2 separate regions of the Homo sapiens genome follow, and region 2 is linked to region 1. Evidence: fine-mapped expression QTL. A gene starts in region 1. The other region holds a variant in brackets. All regions are shown on one strand. Distances are between the middles of the regions. Region 1 holds the start of GLIPR1 (GLI pathogenesis related 1). Region 2 overlaps GLIPR1 (GLI pathogenesis related 1).

Region 1 (12,030 bases):
GTATTCATTTGTAGTCACTGCTTTTTATTGCTGAGTAATATTTATTACGTGGATGTAGCACAGTTTATCTATCCAAGTCAGTCTCTTTTTAAAAGCTTCATGGGCACTCTGGTTTTTGGTTAAACTTGTGGGCTTTGGAGCCACAAGGCTTGAGTTCATATTCAAGCTTTGCCACTTACAGTGTGACCTTGGTCTTAGGTTCCTTATCTATTAAATGAGGATAATAACAATACCAACTCCATAGGCCTATTTTGAAGTTTTAAATGAGCTTCTGGAACATAGCAAGCACTCAGCAAATATTCTTGTTTCATTCCCTTACCACTAAGTTTCTTAGGCTTAAAAATTCTTAACACTTTAATTTTTTTTTTTATCAGGCAGGTTTCTGTTGTATGTTTTCTTACTGTAGTAAACAAAAAACCATAATTATAAGCGCTACTCATTTTTGAGAACTTAGGTGTATCATTAAGCATTTTACATGTGACATCATGTTTAATCCTTATAAAGTGTTATTGCTCTTCCTTTTGTAGGTAAAAGATTGGAACCTAATTCTGCCTGGCCATGAAGTACTGTGAGGACAGTCCATGCCCTCAGCAAGATGCTTTTAGAGTGTTTTCTCTTTTAGCAAGCTCTTCAGAACCAGGAACCACTCTTTATACCTTTCTTACAAAAGCACTGCACCTGGGGAACCCAGAGGGAAGGAAGATGTCTCCCTTATAGGCCCACAACCCCTTCCTACCATCTTTCCCTTTCAATTCTCGGTATGAGCTCTTCTGGTTCATTATCGGGAGTATGGTAACATTGTAACATATATGAAACCTACTACAGAAATTGTGAAACAGGTCACATTTCCATGGTTCTATGCGAGTATAAAAATAAAGCTGGCCGAGGCGGGCGGATCACGAGGTCAGGAGATCGAGACCATCCCGGCTAAAACGGTGAAACCCCATCTCTACTAAAAATACAAAAAATTAGCCGGGCGTAGTGGCGGGCGCCTGTAGTCCCAGCTACTTGGGAGGCTGAGGCAGGAGAATGGCGTGAACCCGGGAGGCGGAGCTTGCAGTGAGCCGAGATCCCGCCACTGCACTCCAGCCTGGGCGACAGAGCGAGACTCCGTCTCAAAAAAATAAATAAATAAATAAATAAATAAATAAAATAAAGCTGTCAAGAGGGTGAGAGGAGGAGGCAGGAAGAGAAAAACTAAAATAAGATCAGTAGCGCCATCTAGTGAGAAATCCTAGCACTATCAAATCCAAGTAATCCTCTACCCTGCCCAGATACTTTAATTAAACTATTTCTAAACTTTATAAAGCTGAACTGTCAGCAACAGAATGTCGAATTTGAGTCATCTTCCATTTTATACACCAACATTTTTTCTCAATGCCAGTCTATCTCCAGTGAAGACAAAGCTAAAGTGTTGAATGAATACATCAAGAAATATCATACATTTTGTGAGGAGTTAATGGGCCTGAATCTATTTTCTTTATTCTGTACAACCTCCCATCATCAGCCAAAATCTGCAAATAGCTCGATTTTTGAAGAGAAGATGAGGATAAGTAGGAGGTTGTAATATCCACTTAAAGTAACTGTTCAGCATGAATTTAACACAGCAATTGAGTAGTTTTGAGTCCCCCAGGAAGATTTCTTGTCATGATGAAAACAGTCTTTCACCTAGCTATCAGATCCTTCTTCCATTATGATTGTTGGAAAACCAGCTTATGTAAGGATCTACCCTTTGTTCAATGCCTACTAAATACTAGTATTTTATTAGGTAATGTATACATATTTTATTTGTCAGGCCTCTGAGCCCAAGCTAAGCCATCATATCTCCTGTGACCTGCACGTATACATCCAGATGGCCTGAAGTAACTGAGGAATCACAAAAGAAGTGAAAATGCCCTGTTCCTGCCTTAACTGATGACATTACCTTGTGAAATTCCTTCTCCTGGCTCATCCTGGCTCAAAAGCTCCCCCACTGAGCACCTTGTGACTCCCACCCCTGCCAGCCAGAGAACAACCCCCTTTGACTGTAATTTTCCATTACCCAAATCCTATAAAACAGCTCCACCCCATCTCCCTTCATTGACTCTCTTTTTGAACTCAGCCTGCCTGTACCCAGGTGATAAAAAGCTTTATTGCTCACACAAAGACTGTTTGGTGGTCTCTTCACAAGGACGCAAGTGAAATTATTATTTAAGCCTTCCAACATATCTAATATCTGAACCTCAACTCTTCATCTTACTAGCTAAATGACATCAGGGGAACAACTTATTAACCTCTCTAAGTCTGTTTATTCACCTGTGGGTAATACCATTAACATCTCCTTAATAGATTTGTGGTAATAATTGAATGAGGTCTTCAGTGTAGAGAGCTAAACACTATGCCCATTTAAAAAGTGATTGCTGCTGCTCTATCTTCCCAGCCCAGGGGGTTCTTGGACATTCTCCCCGTGATGAGTGCCCCTCTTCTGAAGTGGGGGTAGAATGTAGTGGTTTCTTAAAGAGGATCACTCATGTTAGGATCACTGAGCTTGGGTTTTAATATCTGTATGTATGGGACTGGGTTTTAGAAAATGAATTTTCTCATGACCAAAATATTAGTCCTCCTTTTTTCCCTTAGATGTAAGGGGAAATTTTACAAGTAAGCTCAGTTAATTTTGGGAGGGCCATCTGTGAAATCTCAGGCATTTATGGCATAAACTCAAATGTTCTCTTCTTTCGATTTCCTGGAATGGTGAACATGGAGTGTCTTAACTTGTGTATTGAGCATGGTTTAGGAGTCTGTTGTCAATTTTACAGTCTTTTGACCTCTATATATTTGGCATGCTGAGCTTCTTGCCATTGATCTAAAGTACCAGGCCCATTCATACACATTGTATACTTTCCACACCTTGCTGAGAATTCTCTTCCCTTTCCTTTTCATCTGAAAAATTCCCACTCAGTTTTCAAGTACCAATTCACATGTCTCCAGCAGTGTGAAGCTTTACACTTCCTTTTGGCCGGATAAGTTGCTCATTCTGTCCTCCTTGCTCACATGGCACTTTGTCAGCTTCTCTAAATTGTACTAGCCAAACACTGTCATAATCCATTTACACATAAGTCTCTCCCAAAAGGTCAATTTCTGAGGGCCAGGGACCATTTCCAGCTGTATTTCTCCTCCTTCCCTGGCTCATTCCCTATTTCTCCTCACTTCCGCTTCTCCAAGATTGTATCCCAATAAAATGTTAGCTCATAAACTATTGTCTCAGGCTCTGTTTTCCAAGAATCTGGACTAAGACATATCACTAGTGCCTGTTATAGGGTAAAAGCTTAAACACTGACTAATAAATAAATGAAAGTAGGCACCCTCAAACTGACAATTATTTCTGAGTATTTAAATACCGCAATGCATAACAGTACAAGTACCACTTGTAGGCTATCTAGATTTAGCTTTCTACTCCCCTAGGTCTTGTTGGAATCCAAGGAAACTTATTTCCTGGTTAAATTTATTTGTAAATGTAAACCAAAATTGTTAGTTTATGAAGTAAATTTAGGAGAAATTCATTTTACTCTTATAATAATTTTTTGTAACTGCACCAAACTTGGTTCATCTGTAGCACCACGAATGAGATCACAGGCTTTGTAAGGCTGAGCTGGAGTAAGGGAGGTTTTCTTACACCATGTTGTTCCTTAAAACCACCTAATGTTTCAATGTAACTGCCTTGATAGAAACGTTTTTGCCTTCATACCTCATTTCAACTGATTTTTTGTGCCCCAAAACAGTCAATTATAGGTTAAGTACCGTACGTTATTGGTTTGACAAGGATGGCCAGGAAGTGACAGTAAATAAACAAAATGTAGCCAGGACAGGAAGGCAGCGTCTGAAGACAATTATGACAGATGCTCCCTAGAGAGTTGTTTCCATCATGCTGCAAATGTGAGGTAGGGTTAGGGAGCCAGAATCAGCTTGAGTAAAAATTAAAAAAAAAAAAAAAAACTCAATGGGTGGCTCTGAATGTGGCTATTGGGACTAATAATATGGATTCTGGGGGCAGAATACCCTCAGAATGGTTCATATAAGTTTACACGTTGGCCTCTCTGTTGGCCTGGGACTGACTTTTTCTCCCTCCTTGTGTAGCACCGTGCGTGGTGCCTAGTGCATGGCACACAGTAGGTTTTCAGTCGATGTTTGAGAGAATGAGAGGTTGTGGAAGCATCAGTTCTTATTGATGTTTCTGTCTGAGAGTCTTGTTTCTTCCAATTTTATAGTCCCAAAACAATTGGCTCAAATTTCATTTAAAACTCATGCTACAGCTGGAACCTGAAAATCCTTTCACTCATAAGGTTCTTTGATTTCTCACAAATGGAATAAAGTCCTATGGGAGAATAGCTGTTACAGGAATTGTTCAAAGCCTGTCCAAGTTGGTGGGCCTCACATATTACCTATTATGTGTTTAGTTCACACAACTAAACTTTTCAAGCATTATTTTCTGTTCTTGGAGGCTGTTCTATTTAACTCCCTTATATTTACAGGTATACTAGCATACTATACATTTTCTTAACTTCATAGTACAATTTTTCTCCTCATACTTGAAAAGACAGTTTCAAGATAATATAGGGCAGATCCTTACCTGAGTGTAGTGGCCACAGACTTTTTTGCATATCCGAGTCTTGAAGTCATAGTCCTGGATTTCGTCATACCAGTTTGTGATGGCGGAAGACACAGAAAAAATGGGCACAGACCCAGTCCAGATGTTCTCTCCCAGTGAAGTGAAGTTTGGGTGCAGCTTGTGGGGTGGCTTCAGCCGTGTATTATGTGAAAACTGGCAATTGCTGGCCCATGCTTTTGCAATTTGGGCTAGTGCTGGGTCCCAAGTCTGCAAAAATAAACATTAAACAATAGGGGGTTCATCTGAAATGTAACTGGGGTGAGTACAGTGGGAATTTGAATGGAAAACGAGGTGAGATAAGGAGAGAAGATACCACTGCATATGAGTCCTCTATAAATATGGTCTTCAAGCACTGAGTAGGGCTGGTAGGAAACGTGACAATTTAGTTTCATGGAATTTAGAATCTAAGTGAGGAAAACTGACATTTCACTGAAGGCTAATTGTGGGCAAAATAGTGTGTGCCGTGTTTCACAACATTATTCCATAACCACAACAGCCCATATCCTAAGAAGTTCAGAAAGGTTAAAAACCAGCTTAAAGCCACAGATCTGAAATTCAATCCCAAGCCTTACTGAATCAAAATCCCATCCTTTCCCCAGATGCCATTCTGCCTACCTGAGCAACTCAGTACTTTGTCAGCAGCAAAAAAAGTAAATTTAGAGACAAAAAAAAAAAAAAAAAAAGAAAACCAAATCACAAAAATTAACAGGGAGGAAGATAACAAAAAGAGAAGTAAAATCCACTGAAAACCAGAAAACAGGAAGTGTCCAAAGAGAAGTAAAATGTGCTGTGGCACTTGCTTATAACAACAGTTGGGTAGACAGAGCTAAACTGGATGTGTTTTGATCACAGACTGTGAATTTACTGCATACATTAATCACAATGAAAAAAAAATCATTCAGTATTACGAAGGTATTAACACCAAAGTCAATACACATTAGTTGTTTCTGACTGACTGACGCCACAATTAATGATATTTTCCTTACCATGTATAGCATATCACTGGCTGTTGGTTTCACCTCTGATCGGAACTTGTTATGGATTCGAACGCAGTCTTTGATGAAATCTTCATTTTCGATATCTGGCAAAATATTTGCTGTGTGTGAATAATTGGAGACAAAAGAAACCATCCAGGCTATTGTAGCAAGTGTGACACGCATGCTTTGTCTGGCATGGAGCCTTGGGAGGCTGCAGTCCAGAGCCGCCGCAGTTTCTGAGAGTGTGATTGCCTGAGTGCTCAGCCCACAGCTTTGCAAACCTAGCCGACTTCAGCTTTGAGAAAACAGAACAGAGCATGAGTTCATCACTAGTTTTAAGAAACGGGTTTCTCCATATATGGTGTGCAGCTCACTTTGTGTTCTTAACCCTGTCTTTTCAGTGGTTTTCAGTGACACAGCACCTATTACGACATAGATTTTTATGAGGCTGTGTCAGACTTCCTTTTGAATTGGGAGATATTTCCAAAGAAAATTCTGAAGTCTCCAGGAATAATAGTCTCCAATTTTTAATGGAGGTTGCGGTGATAAAATGAAAATATCTCTTACTTCTATAAATGCCTCGCAAAATGCTTTCAGAAATCTTTTTCTTTTTAGAGTCATATCAACACATAGTGGTTGGAATATCTGGTTAACATCATAAACTTGACCTAGAATTCATTCACGATGGTAGAAACATGTAAGCGTGTATGTGTGTGTGTGTGTGTGTGTGTGAGAGAGAGAGAGGGAGAGAAAGAGAGAGAGAGAGAAAGAGAGAGAGGGATTGAGAGGGAGAATAGTAGAAAGAATACAGGACTCAAGTTGAGAATTTAGTTTCTGTTTCTAACTAGCTGTAAGACCTTGGACAGGATACAAAACTCTCTAAACCTCAGCCACCTATTGAATGAGACTATGGGACCTTTTCTGCTTCCTTAATTACAGAGGTTTGGCAGGATCAAATGAACTAGCTAATATTAAATTCCTGCCTTGTATATTCACCTTAGTAATACAGAAATAAAAACACAGTCACTGGCCCCAAGGAGCTTACAGTGGTAAGAGCTGTGAGATGGTGATGACAAGGATGTTACAACAGGGGCTGTTGGAGATCTGGATATAGGAAAGCACAGGTAGATATGGACACACAAGAGAGCATACTTAACCCATTCTGGAAACGGCAGAGCCGGCCTACATACAGCAGGTGAGGTCTTTGCTGAGGCTAGAATCAGCTAGGTGTTGATCAAGTGAAAAAGCGCTGGAGAGGAGAAGGGAATTAGAGGGATAGGAACTATATATCTAGTTGTGAAATTGAAGACATGGTGTTATGGCAAGAATAGAGCAAGAACCTCTCCATATTGTCTCCCTCTGTAAATATGGTCTGTAAATAAGTAGTGATTCTGACTGGTAGAAAACTTGATACCTGGTGTCATGGAATTCAGAATCCAAATGATGCTTTCATGCCACTTGGGGGAGAGAAGTTAAGAGTCAGATCAGGAAGGATTTCTCAATTCTGCTAATGATTTTTTATTTTATCACCAAAGTCATGGGAAGTTATTGGAGGATTTTAGCTGTAGGTGGGGTTTAGACCTGGTTTTAGAAAACACGTGTATTTTAGAAAATTAAGAGAGATGGAAAATGGAATGAGGTGGGGAAATATTTCTAATGCAAACAAAAAGTAAAGAAACATTCCAGGCACACCTGTAGCCCCACCTACTCAGAAAGTTGAGGTGGGAGGATAGCTTGATCCCCACAATTTGAGGCTGTGAAGAGCTATAGTCAGGTCACTGCAATCCAGCCTGGGTGACAGAGCGAGGCCCCATCATTAAAAACAAACATACGGGCCAGGCGCGGTGGCTCACGCCTGTAATCCCAGCACTTTGGGAGGCTGAGGAGGGCGGATCATCTGAGGTCAGTTGTGCAAGGCCAGCCTGACCAACATGGTGAAACCCTGTCTCTACTAGAAATACCAAAATTAGCCTGGCATGGTGGCACATGCCTGTAATCCCAGCTACTTGCGAGGCTGAGGCAGGAGAATTGCTTGAACCTGGGAGGCGGAGTTGCAGTAAACTGAGATTGTCATTGCACTCTAGCCTAGGCAACAAGAGTGAAACTCCATCTCAAAAAAGCCCAACCAACCAACCAAACAAACAAAAACCATTACAGAACCATAAGGCAGAATTACTATTGCCACACACACACAAATAACCTTAAAAATACTCATACATAAATTCAAATTTTGTCCAGGCTGCCTAATTTCTACTAGCATGTCTTTACATTATAGGAATCTGAGATAAGCAGTGTCTTATCCAGGTCTCATAGGCAACTTTTTGATCAATGTAGTGACAATAAACAAAGAGACCTTTCTCCAGTTTGAAGTGGTAACCATGTCTAAGGCCTGCTTCTCATCTTCTTCTGGGTCTCTGTGAGCTAGACTGAGTTTTGAATACAACAACAAGAAAGAGGAAACCCCACGAGCAAGCAAAATCAGTGGTTTTTTTGGTTGCTTGCGTAATCCCTGTTATACACATACAACTCCCAAGAATGAGCAATGTTATCTTGGTCTTGAAATGATTTAATATTTTTTCTCTACTTTCCTGAAAATAATCAGCAAAAGGGAAAGTCTGCCGTCACAGAGATGATTTTTGTGTTATTGTGCAGACCAGGTTAGCTCCTTAGAGCTACAACTCTAAAACTTTTCAATTCACACTACACGTTTGCACCAAAAGTCCAGAGAAGTGGTTTGCCACAGAACAGGAACTTTTACTTGGAAGCAAATGTAAGCCTGCACTGCTTAGAAGGCTTTGAACTTTGCTATGACTTTTTCCACTTCTTAACCCAAGTCTTCACCATGATCTCTTTGATAATTATGCACGTGTGTTAAGACAGAGAGATTGGTTTTTAGTGCTCATCACTCATGGTAGCATTTTAAAAGATTTTTAACTTTCTTTTTAATTCTTCTCTGTATCGTTTAATTTTTTTACAGCAAGAACATGCTATCTTTCATAGTAATAAAATAAACTGCAATTATTTTGGAGAGTCATGGGATCTTTAAAATCATGCACAAATTCATACATATACATTGCCTGATAAACCCATGCATAGATAAAAGACTAAAGGAATATCCACAATTTCAGTATTGTGGGTAATACTGCATAATGGACTATGTCTCTCTATCCCCGCAAGCTTTACTCAAGTGTCTTATAAAAAGCAACAGTTTGTGTAGCTAGAGATAATCATTTATATTATGTGGAAAAATCTCAACCTTGCTATACTGTTCTAAATATATCAATTTATATATATGATGAGCTTTTTTATTTCTTGGGGAGAAATGATATAGAATTTTCTATAATCCCACACTTCCTGATTAGATTCCAAAAACATTTAGGCTCCAAAACCTCTAGCCACCTATTCTACTGGGGCTATGTGTTGGGTGTGGGGATAGACAAAGATAAAGGATTCAGAAAGAGGGAGGGGCTATATTTATTAAGCAAACATGTCACTGTTACATTGTTGTGTGATGATACTTTAATTTGGTATAAATTAGTTTTACGTATGTGACAATGTACAAGTTAACTGTAGTCCATATTCTAGAAGCAGTTAATTAGTGCTGAAGTACTCTAACCAAGAATCCACACTCCAAAGGTGATGGTTAACACTTCAGATATGGTTATGGAAATTGATACCTGAGAGTTTGTTAATTAGAACAGGGCATGTTAGAGAATCATTTTCACTGGCAAAATGAGTAATTTTCATGGTGAATGGCTTGTGGGGAGATTGAACACAGCCTCCTGCTATTGCATGAATGAAGTATAAAGAAGCAGACATCCTCAGATCTCTATTACTGCTGGTGTAGTGTTCAAGGGAATTGCCACCTCACAAGAGGTCCCCGTTTTCTGCCTTGACTTCAAGGCTGCTAGTCTTAACTTTAGAATGTCTGTTTAGTGAGCTTACCATTGGAGCGTCTAAGAGTAGAAAGCAGGAATGTTTCTGTAATTGTTTGCTAATGAATGTTAAGACATTTAGCAAAATTTGTCCAAGACTTACTTTCATAATAGCATACTATCAGGTACTGGGTTTGTAAGGGAGGGGAACATAGCCTTTGCATAACTCAGCTCTAACTGCAAGAGGCTTCAATATTTATCAAAGGAACCTGACATTTGAGGCCATGTTAGCTTAGGTCAGTTGGCAGCAGTGATGACAAGCACCAAACCTTTTCAAATTCATTATCTCACTATGCTCTCATAATAATCTTGTGACATATATATGTGTGTATATATATGTATGTGTATACACAAAATTATTCCTATTTACAGATGAAAATATTGGGACATAAAGAGGATAAATAACTGGACCAGGGGAATGACACTAGTAAGATGTTAACTTAAGGTCTCATTGCAAATCTTGTCTGTAGTTGTTAAGAGCACAAGTTCATTAGACTGTCTGGGTTCAAATCAAATACCCTGTACTAGGTGTATGAATGGGCATTTTGTCTTTCTGTCCTTTAGTTTCCTTATCTGTAAAATAGGAATGATAATATTACCTCCTTCATTGGATTGACAAACAAATTTAAATAAGAAGTTATTTCTAAAAACAGATTAGGTAGTGCCTGACACAGGGTAAGTACTATATATACCAGCTATTATTATTATTTCTTTTCCTTTATTACTCTAGGTATGCATAAGTGCATTCCATACTGATAGGGTTTGGCTGTGTCACCACACAAATCTCATCTTGAATTGTAGCTCCCATAATTTCCGCATGCTGTGGGAGGGACCCTGTGGGAGAGAATTGAATCATGGGGGGTGGTTTCCCCCATACTTTTGTCATGGTTGTGAATAAGTCTCATGAGATCTGATGGTTTTATAAGGGGTTTCCCTTTTTGCTTGGCTCTCATTCTCTTGCCTGCTGCTGTGTAAGACATGCCTTTTGCTTTCTGCCATGATTGTGAGGCCTCTCCAACCACATGGAACTGTGAGTCCATTAAACCTCCTTTTCTTTTCTTTTTTTTTTTTTTTTTTTTTTTTTTTTTGAGACAGAGTCTCCCTCTGTCACCAGGCTGGAGTGCAGTGGCGCGATCTCAGCTGGCTGCAACCTCCGTCTCCCGGGTTCAAGTGATTCTCCTGCCTCAGCCTCCCAAGTAGCTGGGACTACAGGCACATGCCACCACACCCAGCTAATTTTTTTGTATTTTTAGTGGAAATGGGGTTTCACCATGTTGGCCAGGATGGTCTCCATCTCTTGACTGCCTCCCAAAGTGCTGGGATTACAGGCGTGAGCCACTGCGCCTAGCCCTTTCCCTCATAAATTACCCAGTCCTGGGTATGTCTTTATCAGCAGGATGAAAATGGACTAGTACACATACATACAGTTGAGGCTACGTTTAACCTAGAACACTTTCATATTTATAGCATTACATTTTGACAAGAGAATAAAATCAAGTTAGGAAAAAATATACCTTGACACTGTAAGTATTATTGCTATAGATCAATAATGGATTTTTGATATAAACTACTCACAATGGTGTTACATTTGTTTCTTGACGGGTTCTTTACCTTGTGACTTTTTATACACTGCATTTGGTATTCATTTGAATAGTCTAAATAAATAACTTATTTTCCTATTAGAAATAGATGTATTTAATGACCCATAAATGATGTTTTATAATTAGTTTTTAAACAGTTTTAGATATTCAGATGAAAAATGTTGGGCAAATGCCACTTGATATTCAAGGTTAATTCTTATACAATGACACTGGAGCAGAGCAATGCTCCTACTAAATATACTCATTTCTTCTAAAATAATGTACAAAACAGTAATATTGGCTTTTTTAGTTATTAGACTGCAACAATTTTATGTTGTATGTTTGGACATTTTTAGCTTTATTATGTATTCCCTTTCTCTACCCAACAAAGGATCATTTTCAAAAATAATTGCCTTTTAAAAATATATAGCTTTGTAAAATTAATTTTTTACTTTAACATCTTTTGCCTAGCTTGGATGATTTTGGGTTATATGCAGTTCTCAGGACTAGGTTAATTATATTTGTATATTCAAGCATAACTATAGCTACATTGAATTCTTCTGGTTGCCAAGGATTCTGCTATGTGATATTTCCTTTCAATTTCTCAGATGTAAGAGCAGAAATAATCTATTCTTTTATACTCTTACTACTTTTCTTTTCTCAATCCCTTTCATTAGTGATAATATATACTACAACCAGATCTTTCTTCCCCAAATGGAGCCAACTGTGTCAGATTAGGATAGTAATACATACCTCACTGATTTTGCCTACAACTGCCTAACATAGGACCTCAACACCTTGTAAAATCACCCACAAAAGGTTGTCTGAGGGTTTCTTTTACATTAACTGGTGAAGAAGTCCATTTCCACCAAGAGCTTATGCTACTTTTCCAG
Region 2 (12,030 bases), 23 kb before region 1:
ATTTCTGTCATTTTGGTAGTTATGAAATGGTATTTGGTTGCAGTTTTAGTTTGCATTTTCTGATCACCTATGAGGTTGCATATCTTTTCACATGTTTTGAGGCTTCCTTAATTGTGAAACTCCTGAGTATTTCTTTTGTCAGTTTTTTTCCTGAGGTTGTAGTGGGGATTTTAAAAAAAATTATCCATAGCCTTTGAAGTGTTTAAATTGGATAGGGACTTCGTCAGGTAAACATTGTAAGTAACTAGTTGCAGTGACTCACACCTGTAATCCCAGCACTTTGGCAAGCTGAGGAGGGGGGATTGCTTGAGCCCAGGAGACCAGTCTGGTCAACATGGCAAAACCCTTTCGCTACAAAAAAAAAAAAAAAATTAGCCGGACATGATGGCACATGCCTGTAGTACCAGCTACTTGTGAGGCTGAGGCAAGAGAATAGATCGCTTGAGTCCAGGAGGTCCAGGCTGCAGTGAGCTGGGATGGAGCCATTGCACTCCAGCCTGGGTGACAGAGCGAGGCCCTGTCTTTAAAAAAAAAAAAAAAAAAAGAAATGTGTATAGTATATAAGTAATCACTTTTGTGGAATTCGTGTTCTTTAAAGGACATTGGAGAATCCTTTATATGAAGACTAGCCAATTGTCTGTGATTTGAACCAGAAATAGCAACGTGGATGTGAGTATAAGCAGAAAGTTTACCTGTCTGAGGCTGCTAACATAGGGTAATGACGTGTTTTTCAAACTTTACCGTGCTTAAGAGTCTCCTGTTGAGCATGGTAAAACACAGATTCTTGTCCCTCGTCGAAGAGATTCTCATTCAGTAGGTCTGTAGTGGGGCCCAATAATTGCATTTCTGACAGACTTACAGTTTGTGCTGATACTGCAAGTCTATGGATCATACCTTTGAGTATAACTGAATTAGAGTATAGCTATTGAAATTAAGGAGTTCTTCAAATTCAAGATCAAGAGTTTTTTAAATAAATGATTCAGAAGATAATTTACGGCCCTTAGGAGGCATTTTCTTGTAGTGAAAGGAGTCCCAGGCTGAGTGAGCTTTGTGTTCCCTTAGGCAAGTCACTTAACCTTTTTAGACCATCTTCTATAAAATGAGAATAATAATACAGATTCTACCTTTTATAGTTACGATGAAAGGCGTATGGAAATAAGGCACTCAAAATGCTTAGGAAAATCTAGAATTACCAGTGATTATTAACTGAAAGATAAACTAGAATTCTCTTTCAGAAGTTTTACACAAACACATACATCCAGATTCCATACACTCCAGGAAAGTCAGAAAGGTTAATTGTATTTAAAATACTAACCAAAATGGCATTCAAATCTTCAATTTTATGATAGTGTAGTGCAGTACATGTTTCTGGAGTACTCACTATCTGCCTGGCATATGCCAACTAGTGTGAAGAGGGTTTCTGCTCTTAAGGAACTTTGTCATATGAGGCAACTGAAATGTGTACAGATAATTTTAATACAGAGAATTGATGATAATGACAGAGGAACGTTCTTTGACTCTTGAATAATATAAAAAGCAGGGGAAAAGGAAATGCAAGGAGTATTGGAAGGTTTGTGAATATGTGCATAGGATGTTCATAAAGTGTCCAAAAGACAGTTAAAATGTGATGTGTATGTCCAAAAGACAGTTAAAATGTGATGTGTAAATTTTTTCCTTTCTGTAGATGAATCAGAACTCCTTACGGTTCCTGATGGTTGGAAGGAACCAGCTTTTTCCAAAGAGGACAATCCCAGAGGACTTTTGGAGGAGAGCAGTTTCGCAACTTTGTTCCCAAAATACAGGGAAGCTTACTTGAAAGAGTGTTGGCCATTGGTGCAGAAAGCCTTAAATGAACATGTATGTGTATCTTATATCAATACATTTATTTGAGACTTTGCTCTTGCTTATGCCTTTAAATGTATGTATGCTAATGCTTTTTTTTTTTTTTTAATGGTGCTAACATAGCTGGTTACTTTGGTTCCTTTGGTATTCTAAACTATTTAAGTAAGTTTTCTTCTTACCTAATGTTCATTTGTTTTAATTTTATGAGTAATAAATTACTTTGAAAAATTTACATACCTTTAATATTTTAGGAGCTTCACAACTGTCTGAAATTCACCTGTGAAGTCCCAATTTCAGTATGCCTGCTCCAGGCCATGATAGTTGTCATGTATCTGTCCCAGTCTGAGCTGAGTCATGTTTCTAATTGATTACCTTTCATCTTAAATGGAAGATGTGGATGTGTCCAACTTTTCCTTGTTTATTGCTGATGCTATGCCCCTAGATAACTGCATTTTTTTTTTCAAACTGGGGATTGAAACCCATTAGTGTATTGAGAAGTCAATTTAATGGCTATAATGAGCCTTTAGAAAATGACATATCACATGGTAAAAGTATCTTTTTTTGATATTGGCTTTGTTTGTGTGTGTGTGTATATGTATTAGGTTGTGATATAAAATGTGTTTCTAACTGTGGGACTGCTCTGGAGTTGGTTGTGCCATTGTGGGTGAAGGTGGCTCAGCAAGCTGCAGGTTGTGTTTTGTAGCTGCATCTGGGATTGAGCTCATTTTTTTTTTGTAAACTCATAGAGACTCAACCATATGTTGAATTGTTCAGCACTTAACTATGTTGAAATATTCTTGAGATTATGCTCACAAGTGAGAAAATAGCATTTTAATTCGCTTTGTTGAAATCTGTTTTTTCCTGTTGAAAGTTAATGCTTAAGTTTTCTAATCATTGCTTTTTTCTGAAACTATGATAATTTGCTTTTACTTTGTATTTAGTCCCCTAATTAGCTCGAAAAAAGTTTGAAAGGGAAAGTCAATTCTTACCCAATGGAGCAGATGGTAGACTGGAGCTGGGTCCAGAATAGGGAAGCTGTACAGCTTTACATTTTTACCTTAGTCAGATTTTAAGTATGACCTCATTTGTTTGATTTATAATTTTTAAATTAGAGGCAATCTATATTCCAGTGGGTACAAAGTATTCTAAAACCAAGGGTAAATGGTTTCAATTGCTCCAGTTTCTTATAGTCTGTAAAGTGTGAAAGTAATTGAGTATTCATTATTTATACTTAACTACCTAGCTTCTTCAGGGAAGTAATTGATAGGAATTGAGAGGTGACAGAAATTAATAGGTTGGTTAGGAGAGGCTTTATAATTATCTAAAAAAACTCATTTTTAGACAACTGCTTGTTTGCTCTTTCCTTCTGTAGCATGTTAATGCAACCCTGGACCTGATCGAAGGCAGCATGACTGTTTGTACTACAAAGAAGACTTTTGATCCATATATCATCATTAGGGCCAGAGATCTGATAAAACTGTTAGCAAGGAGTGTTTCATTTGAACAGGTAAATCTAGAATTACAGAGACTTTGCTTTGTTTGCATCAGTGTTAACCTATAACATCCCACCATCAAGTTTTCATATTTGTGCTTAGGTAACAATAGCGTGGGCCTGGAAAATGAATGTAATTGTAAAAAATGTTGATAATGTCTTCTTTTTTTTTTTTTTTTTGCAAAAGGCAGTACGAATTCTTCAGGATGATGTTGCATGTGACATCATTAAAATAGGTTCTTTAGTAAGGAATAAAGAGAGATTTGTAAAACGAAGACAACGGCTTATTGGTCCCAAAGGATCTACATTGAAGGTATTTTTTAATTAGTGGAAAACTTGAGTCTCTTCCTTAATACTTTTTCAGAGTAATGAATTTTAACTTGATCTCTTGATACAGGCATTGGAACTCTTAACTAATTGTTACATTATGGTTCAGGGAAACACAGTTTCAGCCATTGGACCTTTTAGTGGCTTAAAAGAGGTGAGAACTATGTATTATCTTCGATTCATTTTCAGCAGAGAACAAATAATTTGGTTATAATATAGTTTATTGGATAATGCTTTATAATTTTATTTCTTTAGAATGTGCTTTGATTTCCCATTAGTAAATACTTTTTATGTCATATAATTCAAGGGAATCATCATATCTGGACCCTAACATGTTTTGGCCAACCTTGGCAACTATGGAGACATCCATTTCTGAATTAGATGGTCTGCACACTATTACTCCTCCCACTATAAAATTTAAATGAGCATTAAGATCTTCAGTCTGTAGCATGTATGAACATGGTATAGTTACATATGTCCAAATGACGGGAAAATTGAGCAAAAATCCAGTTATTTGCAGTAGTGTATACAGCCAGTAGAGGTCACACTCTGAAAACTTTTCTTCAAGATGTAGTTTCTTTTGTTTGAATTTTAGTATAATGTTTAATAACTTTTCATGAACATTTTCTTTAACTTCTCAAATTACATGTGGTGAGGAAATCTGTGGAGCAAATGCTGTTTCTGTTAACTCCTTTTGGTACTATTACTGTCTGGATCTGGCTTGTGAGGTTGTGCTTCCTTTCCAGGGCCTTTAATAGTAATCCTATTGGCCTTTTTTGTCATAAATTGTCTGCTCTTTTCTCATGGAGCAATAATTAAGTATATTGAATACAATTCTTACAAGAGAGTCTTGAGGTATATGGTTTTATCTTATATTACAAATGAGAAAGCTGGAACAGGAAAGTGATTTTCCTGTATGCAGTGGCAGTCCTTGTATTCCAGCCCTCTTCCTCCTAAATCACATTGCTTTAGAGTGTTGTATTAGTTCTCTGTGCTACATTTTAGCAGTAATTGAGAAACTGTATTGTATTCAAGGGAGATTGACTGCCTTTATGAAAGATGGAGAAGCCACTCAGAGCAGTTGAAGGAACTACTTAATTATTTAATTACATTATTTAATTTGGTACCCATTACCTGATTTTTGCAGTATTAATCCTCTTCTCCATAGCTCATTAAAATCCTTGTGACTAATTCATTTTTCTTTGCAAATTTCAGGTTAGAAAAGTAGTCCTTGATACTATGAAGAATATTCATCCAATTTATAACATTAAAGTGAGTGGTAATTATATATAACTGTACCAGTGATTATCATACTTCTTTTAGCTACAGAAACCTTTCTTGAAATTAAATGTTTTATGAAATTCTAATGCACAAACAGATAAAGCAGAGCTATTTTGGGTAAATTAGGGGTAGACTTCAGCCTACTTAATTCTACCCCAGTTTTGTAGGTACTTCTTAGAAGCTCTCTGTGGAGCACAGTGTGAAAACTACTGAAGGGGATACTGTAATATGTTATATAGTTGTAATCAATGAAAGTAAGCTTCACAGAATCTGTTGTAGATCATATCAATCCAGTTTTCTTAGATTATGAACCCATGTATTTAAGGATATGATCTTTCGGAAATCTGCCTTTTTCTATTAAAATCTGGAACATCTCATGTTGCGTTAAAACCTTTTTATGAATTTAACACTCAAATTGTAGCTCCTTTGAGAGAGAACTGTTATATCCCTGTGTGCACAAAGTTTGATTATTCTTGGAAATGTAACCATGGTATATAGAACTATTTTATGATGGGTTTGTTGAGCA[A/G]TCCACTTAAATTTGATGAACTTAAGTTATAAAGTCACTGTTAGATTGGGGGAAAGTGATTTTGAGTTACATTGGGATATTGGGATATTGCAGACAAAAACAAAACTATGTGTCTGATCCCTGGTTTGCATCCTCTGATGTTCCATGGTCTGAAATTTAAATGGAATAGGGAAATGTGAAAATACTGGTTTTCTGTAATCGTGAGAAAGTTTACTTTTGTCTTTTTCTGTGATATTTCAGTTGCTACTGAAAACTTCCTGCTTGCAGGGAACATCAGCTAATTAAGAGCCCTCCCTGCTTTTATAAGTGGCATTTTAAATGTTTTAATGAAATAATGGTTGAAAATTCAGTTTTATTTTTGTCTCATTTTAACAATTCTGCATTTTGTAATTAAATTTCTAATGGTTTTCTAATAATTATACATGTTTGTGATAACCTACCTTTTTGCTTATGTAATTGGTTTAATTTCACCAAAGAAACTAGGAACTGTTTCTTTTATTATTTATAGAAGCAATATTTATAATGTCTGAGTCTGACAAATGTGTGACTTTGGAAAGTAAAAATTTTTACTTTGTTGCATGACTAAAGAGCTTAATGATTAAGAGAGAGTTGGCAAAAGATTCTGAATTACGATCACAAAGTTGGGAGAGATTTTTGCCACAGTTCAAACACAAAAATGTGAATAAACGCAAGGAACCAAAGAAAAAAACTGTTAAGAAAGAATATACGCCATTCCCACCACCACAACCAGAAAGTCAGGTTAGTACTAAATGTAGAACTTCATATGAAGGAGAATCTATTTTAATGTATTTGGTCAGAAACTTTATTGAAAGTATTTCAGGTGGGATATGTGTATATATATATATTGTGTGTGTGTGTGCAGAGCTATAAGAAACTGAGGGTAAATATAAATAGGCATATTTTGAGCTGAGTGCATGGGGGTGTGCAGTGGGGCGTTCACATTGATTATAAACTGCATCCAGGAGGTTTGTGACCCTGTAGCCACTGTAAATGTTCCATGGATAAAAGTTCGTTTAGTCTGCAATACTCTTTTCTCTGATTTGGCAACATTATTGTGACTGTGTGCTCTATGGTTGTTCTTGTTCTGAAATCTTAAATTGTAAATTGTAACACCCACCGTTTTTCTAAGTTATGATTCCTTTTGTCAGGTGTCTTCTGCTTCATTTCCTTTCCCACCATGACCAGTTTCCATTTTGTTCTTGCACATCATTGTTTTGATTCATGCCCCTTTTTACTTCTGTCCCACCTTCTCAGCAAAGCTCTAAAACTTGGATCAGTCTAAAAACTTGACTTCTTCCTTGCAACGTGGCTACCAAATTAAGTTAGAGAAAGTTTTATCTTTGGATTAATTTCATTCAAAATTCATGTTTCCTCTTAATTCTCTCAGTGCCCTCCCATGTTTAGCATATGACATTGCATTTTATTGAAATATTTGAGACCACCAGATAAGAACCCCTTTCTGTTTCCTCTTCTCTCACGTATGGGTTTTCTTCCACCTGCATCAGCCTCTTCTATGTGTTCTTTGAATTCCATCTTCACCTGTCTCCTGGGGGTTCTTGCTTCATTATTCCCTTCCTTGGCTATATCCTAAAGCCTTCCCTTTCTACTTCTGCTCAGCATGTGAACTCATTGCTTTCTACATCTCTTTTTTCCACAACCATGGTTGGAGTCTTTCAGGGAAGATTTGTGATTGACGGGGAAAATGATGATCATAGTGAAAAAACAATGGAAGTTTTGGATCATGGAGGAAATTGATAGTAGTTAGGGGGAAAGTGGAGTGATGCAGTCATTAAACCATGCTTCCATAACACCTGCCTTATTTCTTATGGCCCTTTCTTGTAGTAATTGACTTATCTTTCTTCTGTAGCTGTGTAAGCTTCTTGAAACAGTGATGTCTCGATTGACTTGTTCTTAACACTTAATTCATTATGTGACTGGGCGAGTTATTTATCCCATCCATACTTAAGTTTCCCCATACCTAAAGTGGGAGTAATGGTAATACCTATCTTAAAGAATTGTTAGTGAGGATTAAATGAGTAATTATAAAGAGCTTAGAACAGTGCCTTAGATATAATAATGCTATGTAAGTGGGAGACAGGTCAGTTATACACATTTTACATGTTGGCTGTATATTGAATGAACAAGCTGTTGCTTTTGCTAATTAGTCACCAATTCCTGATAGTTCTGGCTTTTATTCTGCATGCCACTACCTTTATTCCAGGCTCTCATCTATTCTTCATTCCTCTCCATTAAAATTATTCTTTGGTCTTTACAGTCTTCTCAGAAACCTACAGTCATTTCTAAATCTTATCCCTCCTACTTTGTCTGCCATTGAAGCTTCTTCAAATTTTCCCCAAAACTCTCTCTCCAGTTTCTTCTCACACTTTTCTGAATCAGTGACCTTCCATGCCATATCCCTGAACTACTCTGGGTTGTATTCCATGGAGGTGCTTTCCTACCTCCACACTTTTGTGTATGTATTCCCCTCAGCTTAGACTCTGTTTCCTTTATGTCACTACCATTTTTATTAATAAATCAGTTTGACCCCATTGTTTTTACCCTAAGGATATTGTGACTTGCTTAGGACATGACTTCTCCTCTACATTATTTCTGATGTAATTGTAAATACCGTTTTCAACAGATCGATAAAGAATTGGCTAGTGGTGAATACTTTTTGAAGGCAAATCAGAAGAAGCGGCAGAAAATGGAAGCAATAAAGGTACGGCACTTTATGTCTGGCTCACATGAATAGCAAAGTTCATAGATACTTGAATTATTTAACTATAAATACATTTAACTGATATATTTTTTATTTATTAATGTAGGCTAAACAAGCAGAAGCCATCAGTAAGAGACAAGAGGAAAGAAACAAAGCATTTATTCCACCTAAGGAAAAACCAATTGTGAAACCTAAGGAAGGTAATGCTTTCTATGATGTAAAAGTCTTTATTAATTAGGAAAAGTAAACCCATAATAAATTTGTCTGAATCTTTTTAAGAAACAGTTGTATCTTTTCATCAGTTCTCTTAGCATTTCATTAATTACTAATCCTAAGGACAAGGGATGGCTGAGATAATTTATAATTTAGAGGCAGCTAATGCCTATTTCAGTGCAAACTGGATTGACAGTCCTCTCCTGACCTCTGGTCTGTGCTTGGAAAAGACTCTTTGTTGTGAAAGATACAAACCCAGGGCAGCCAGTGCATCTTCTGTAGAAATGCAAGAAGATCCCTGAGCTCTGCTGTCATGCCTCTCAAAGAGGAATTATCAGAAGTTGTACTTTTTCTTCTCTTTATGTGATCTTGGCTTAGAGTTTGGCTTCTATATCGGTAACATGGATTTCTCATCACCTTAGACTAAAGGATGCTGACAGGTCTTATTCAGGAGCTATTAGTGCGAAAGTGATTGTGGTTTTTAAATGGCAGAAATCACTTTCGCACTAACCTAGTATTTAAAAGACACTAAGAGAAAACATTGTCATGCCATTTCTTCTGATGCATCCTCTTCTGCATTTTTTTCCCCTGTGGTAACACTTATCCTCTTCCTAAAGTAACCCTCCAAAGTGAACAGTGACACACTGAAGGGAGAGGGCTCACCAGCAATATTGTACATAGACTGGGTCAGAAACAGATATAATACATTATTATTTTAATATATTGCTTGTTAATAGCTTTAAAAATACTACATTCTATGGTAGATTATTGGTTATATAAAAGGTAGAAATGTCATAAGTATTATAATTTCCAGTCTGTAAAACCTGTCAGTTGAGTGCTTTGAAGGTACTCAATATACTCAATAGCTAGTTACCCTAATTTAGTTTCTCCACACGGTGGAGGCTTTAACACTCTGTGCTTCTCAGGTTGCTGGGTAGTTTGATGTTTTATCTTATGATTCTTTTATGCTGTGATCCTGTACTTTGAATGGTAAGAAAAAGTTGCATTCTTTTTCACTGCTTCCTTTCTCTATTTTGTTCACACTTTTGGCATTGATTAGATAGTTGGCTTCTATTAGGGGGACTTCCACACACTCTCAAATTATTGTCTTTATTACCAAAATGTTGTTAAATATACCAAAATCTTGTTAAAATACTATTAATTAGTCATTCATTGAATTAATATTCAATGAATTAATCTAACATTAAATGAATTAATTCATTGAATATTCAATTAATATTGAATTAATATTTGGAAAACTTTAAATTTTCGTTTTGATATTAGAGGAAGTAGATTTTGACCTCTAGCTTAGGGTTAGCTGATTAAACTTATTGAGAAGGGATACATGTAATTTTAAATTATTTTAATGTGCAAGATGGAAAATAATGACTCAGAAGTTCCAAAATATGGAAAAGAATGTAGGTAAAATAATTTAGTCTGAAGTAGGATTTAAGGAAATAGTCTTAATATAGTTGAATCCAGTAATTGGTTCAATTATGCCATTTATGCCATTTTTATGTATACTTGTACTAATATATAAAGTATTTTATGATTTGTTTTATCTTAATCTGAAGAAATTTCTAACTGCTTTAGGCAAGTGTTTTTATATTTTATACTGTGATCACCTTTCAATTATTCAATTATAAGAATACTCTGAAGTTAACTGCCTTAAACATATATTCTTTGTTAAACATATATTCTTTGTTTTACTTGGTAAAATCTAAAGTATTACATGTGTTGTGCTTTTAATTTGTCTAGCTTCTACTGAAACTAAAATTGATGTGGCCAGCATCAAGGAAAAGGTTAAGAAAGCAAAGAATAAGAAACTGGGAGCTCTTACAGCTGAAGAAATTGCACTTAAGATGGAGGCAGATGAAAAGAAAAAGAAGAAAAAAAAGTAACATACCCAAAACTCCTTGACTAGAACTATCTCCTTTTGTAAAGGATTTTGAGATATCAGGCATTAGTTGCCTTATTTGTGAGAAATTTTCTGAGGGCTTTTTTTTTTTTTGGTGGTGGTGGTTGTTCATAGAAGAGTGTTCTTTATAAATTATATTATTATTGTATTTTTTGAAAAATTTATACGAGAAAGTGGTATATAAGTCTTTGTATACATTACGACCATTGTGATTATCCATTAAATCCAGTGTCTGATGCTATTGGTTAGTAATGATGTCCCAGCATTTGATGTTCCCTCTCTAATGATAACAAGTAAATATTTAGGTTTATCCCTTTTGAAAGTTTGGTTTTACTTTTAACAGTCCATGAACAGAAAATTAAGGCCTCTAAAATCAGATCCCCTAGTTACTCCTCTGTTCTGAATCTGGGGAAGTAGTAAACCAAAAAGACAGGGAAAACCAGATATTTAGAGTCGAAGCAGCATGCAAAAAATAATAATGTTTTTAACTAATGAAGGCTACTGGAGTTACTAAGAATCACCTAAAAATGTGCTACTGTACCTTGCTCATTTTGCAGATTTAGAAGCTGAAACATGGGTTAGGTTACTTACTAAAAGTCCACCTGTGGCAACCTGCAAATAATGCTTATTTATACTAAAGATGAGTTTATCTGATAGAGTTAGGAAATTTCTTCTTTTGAGTAAGAGTATTGCTATAACATATATTTTTTTCTGAAATGTTTTAAAATAGAAGTACACCTAATTGTTATTGGTTAAAAAAAAAGCCATATGTGAATGAGGTTGGTTTTTGGGTTTTTTCTTTCCTGAATTGTATTAGTCCAAAAGAACTAAATTAGGGTACTTGTGCTGTACCAAAATGGTAATTATAACAGACAGTATTAGAATTACTGAATTAACAATGAGAAAGAGAGAAGTGTATCTGTTACGTGGATATATGGGCCAGCCTGGATATACAACAGAGTAGTAACCTGTGAAACAAACATAGAATATCCTCTTAGACATTGTTCCTCATAATGCACTGACAGAATTCACATAGCTCTTAATGAAACAATTTAAGATTGATGTACGTACGTTTGACTTGGTCTCGCTGTCGGTTAACTGTAAAGTTAGGGGGAAGAAAGAAAAAAAATTAAAAGGGTAGACACAGTTGAGAGTTTTATTTTAAAAAGCTAAGTCTTATAATTATGACCATTAACTTGCTTTGGCTTTATTGCAGTGACTTTCCAAGTTTAATTATTCAAAACTTTTTGAACTGACTGAATTAACTTGGTATTTTTAAGTTGACTTTTTACATAAACTTTATAAACCTTTTATAAAAAGGAAACTATACCATTACTATAAATGGAAAATCATTTTACACATCATACCTAGCAGGTAATAAAATTTAAAAAATAAAAATTAAATATTAGAATGTGAGAAATTTATTAAAATATAGTTCTAAAAATAAGTTTCTTCCTGAGAAGAATGATACTGTTTATGATGAATCCATAGTGAAAAGACAGTGACCTCTCTTTCATCCAGTCTAGTATATCACTAAATCATCATTACGATGTTTGGCTATCAAGTCATTAATTACTGTCCTCCTTTCACTGAGCTTTATTCAAATTTTGACAATCAGAGCACTGGGAAGAAATAAATTCCACAACTGCCTTTAGCCTTCTGGATACTTTCTTTTATAAAATAGAAACCTT

Evidence for each region.
Region 2: its variant is fine-mapped to the expression of GLIPR1 in whole blood (TOPMed, PIP above 0.99).

What each region holds. Positions count from the first base shown.
Region 1 is chr12:75,474,656-75,486,685 of GRCh38, reverse strand. It overlaps GLIPR1 (GLI pathogenesis related 1), which reads right to left and starts at 5,931. Exons shown (of 6, transcript NM_006851.3): 1 at 5,632-5,931; 2 at 4,607-4,852. The coding sequence starts at 5,805. It overlaps GLIPR1-AS1 (GLIPR1 antisense RNA 1), which reads left to right. Exons shown (of 2, transcript XR_007063373.1): 2 at 528-3,232. RefSeq lists a silencer at 1,137-1,306 and an enhancer at 3,614-3,663.
Region 2 is chr12:75,498,101-75,510,130 of GRCh38, reverse strand. It overlaps GLIPR1 (GLI pathogenesis related 1), which reads right to left. Exons shown (of 6, transcript NM_006851.3): 5 at 11,411-11,437; 6 at 6,268-11,307. The coding sequence ends at 11,153. KRR1 (KRR1 small subunit processome component) reads left to right here. Exons shown (of 10, transcript NM_007043.7): 2 at 1,685-1,857; 3 at 3,215-3,349; 4 at 3,522-3,647; 5 at 3,732-3,815; 6 at 4,877-4,933; 7 at 6,057-6,227; 8 at 8,131-8,208; 9 at 8,315-8,408; 10 at 10,180-12,030. The coding sequence ends at 10,322. Among named protein-coding and RNA genes, the nearest start is that of KRR1, 7.5 kb to the left of the region's middle. The variant A/G (reference allele first, on the strand shown) is at 5,469.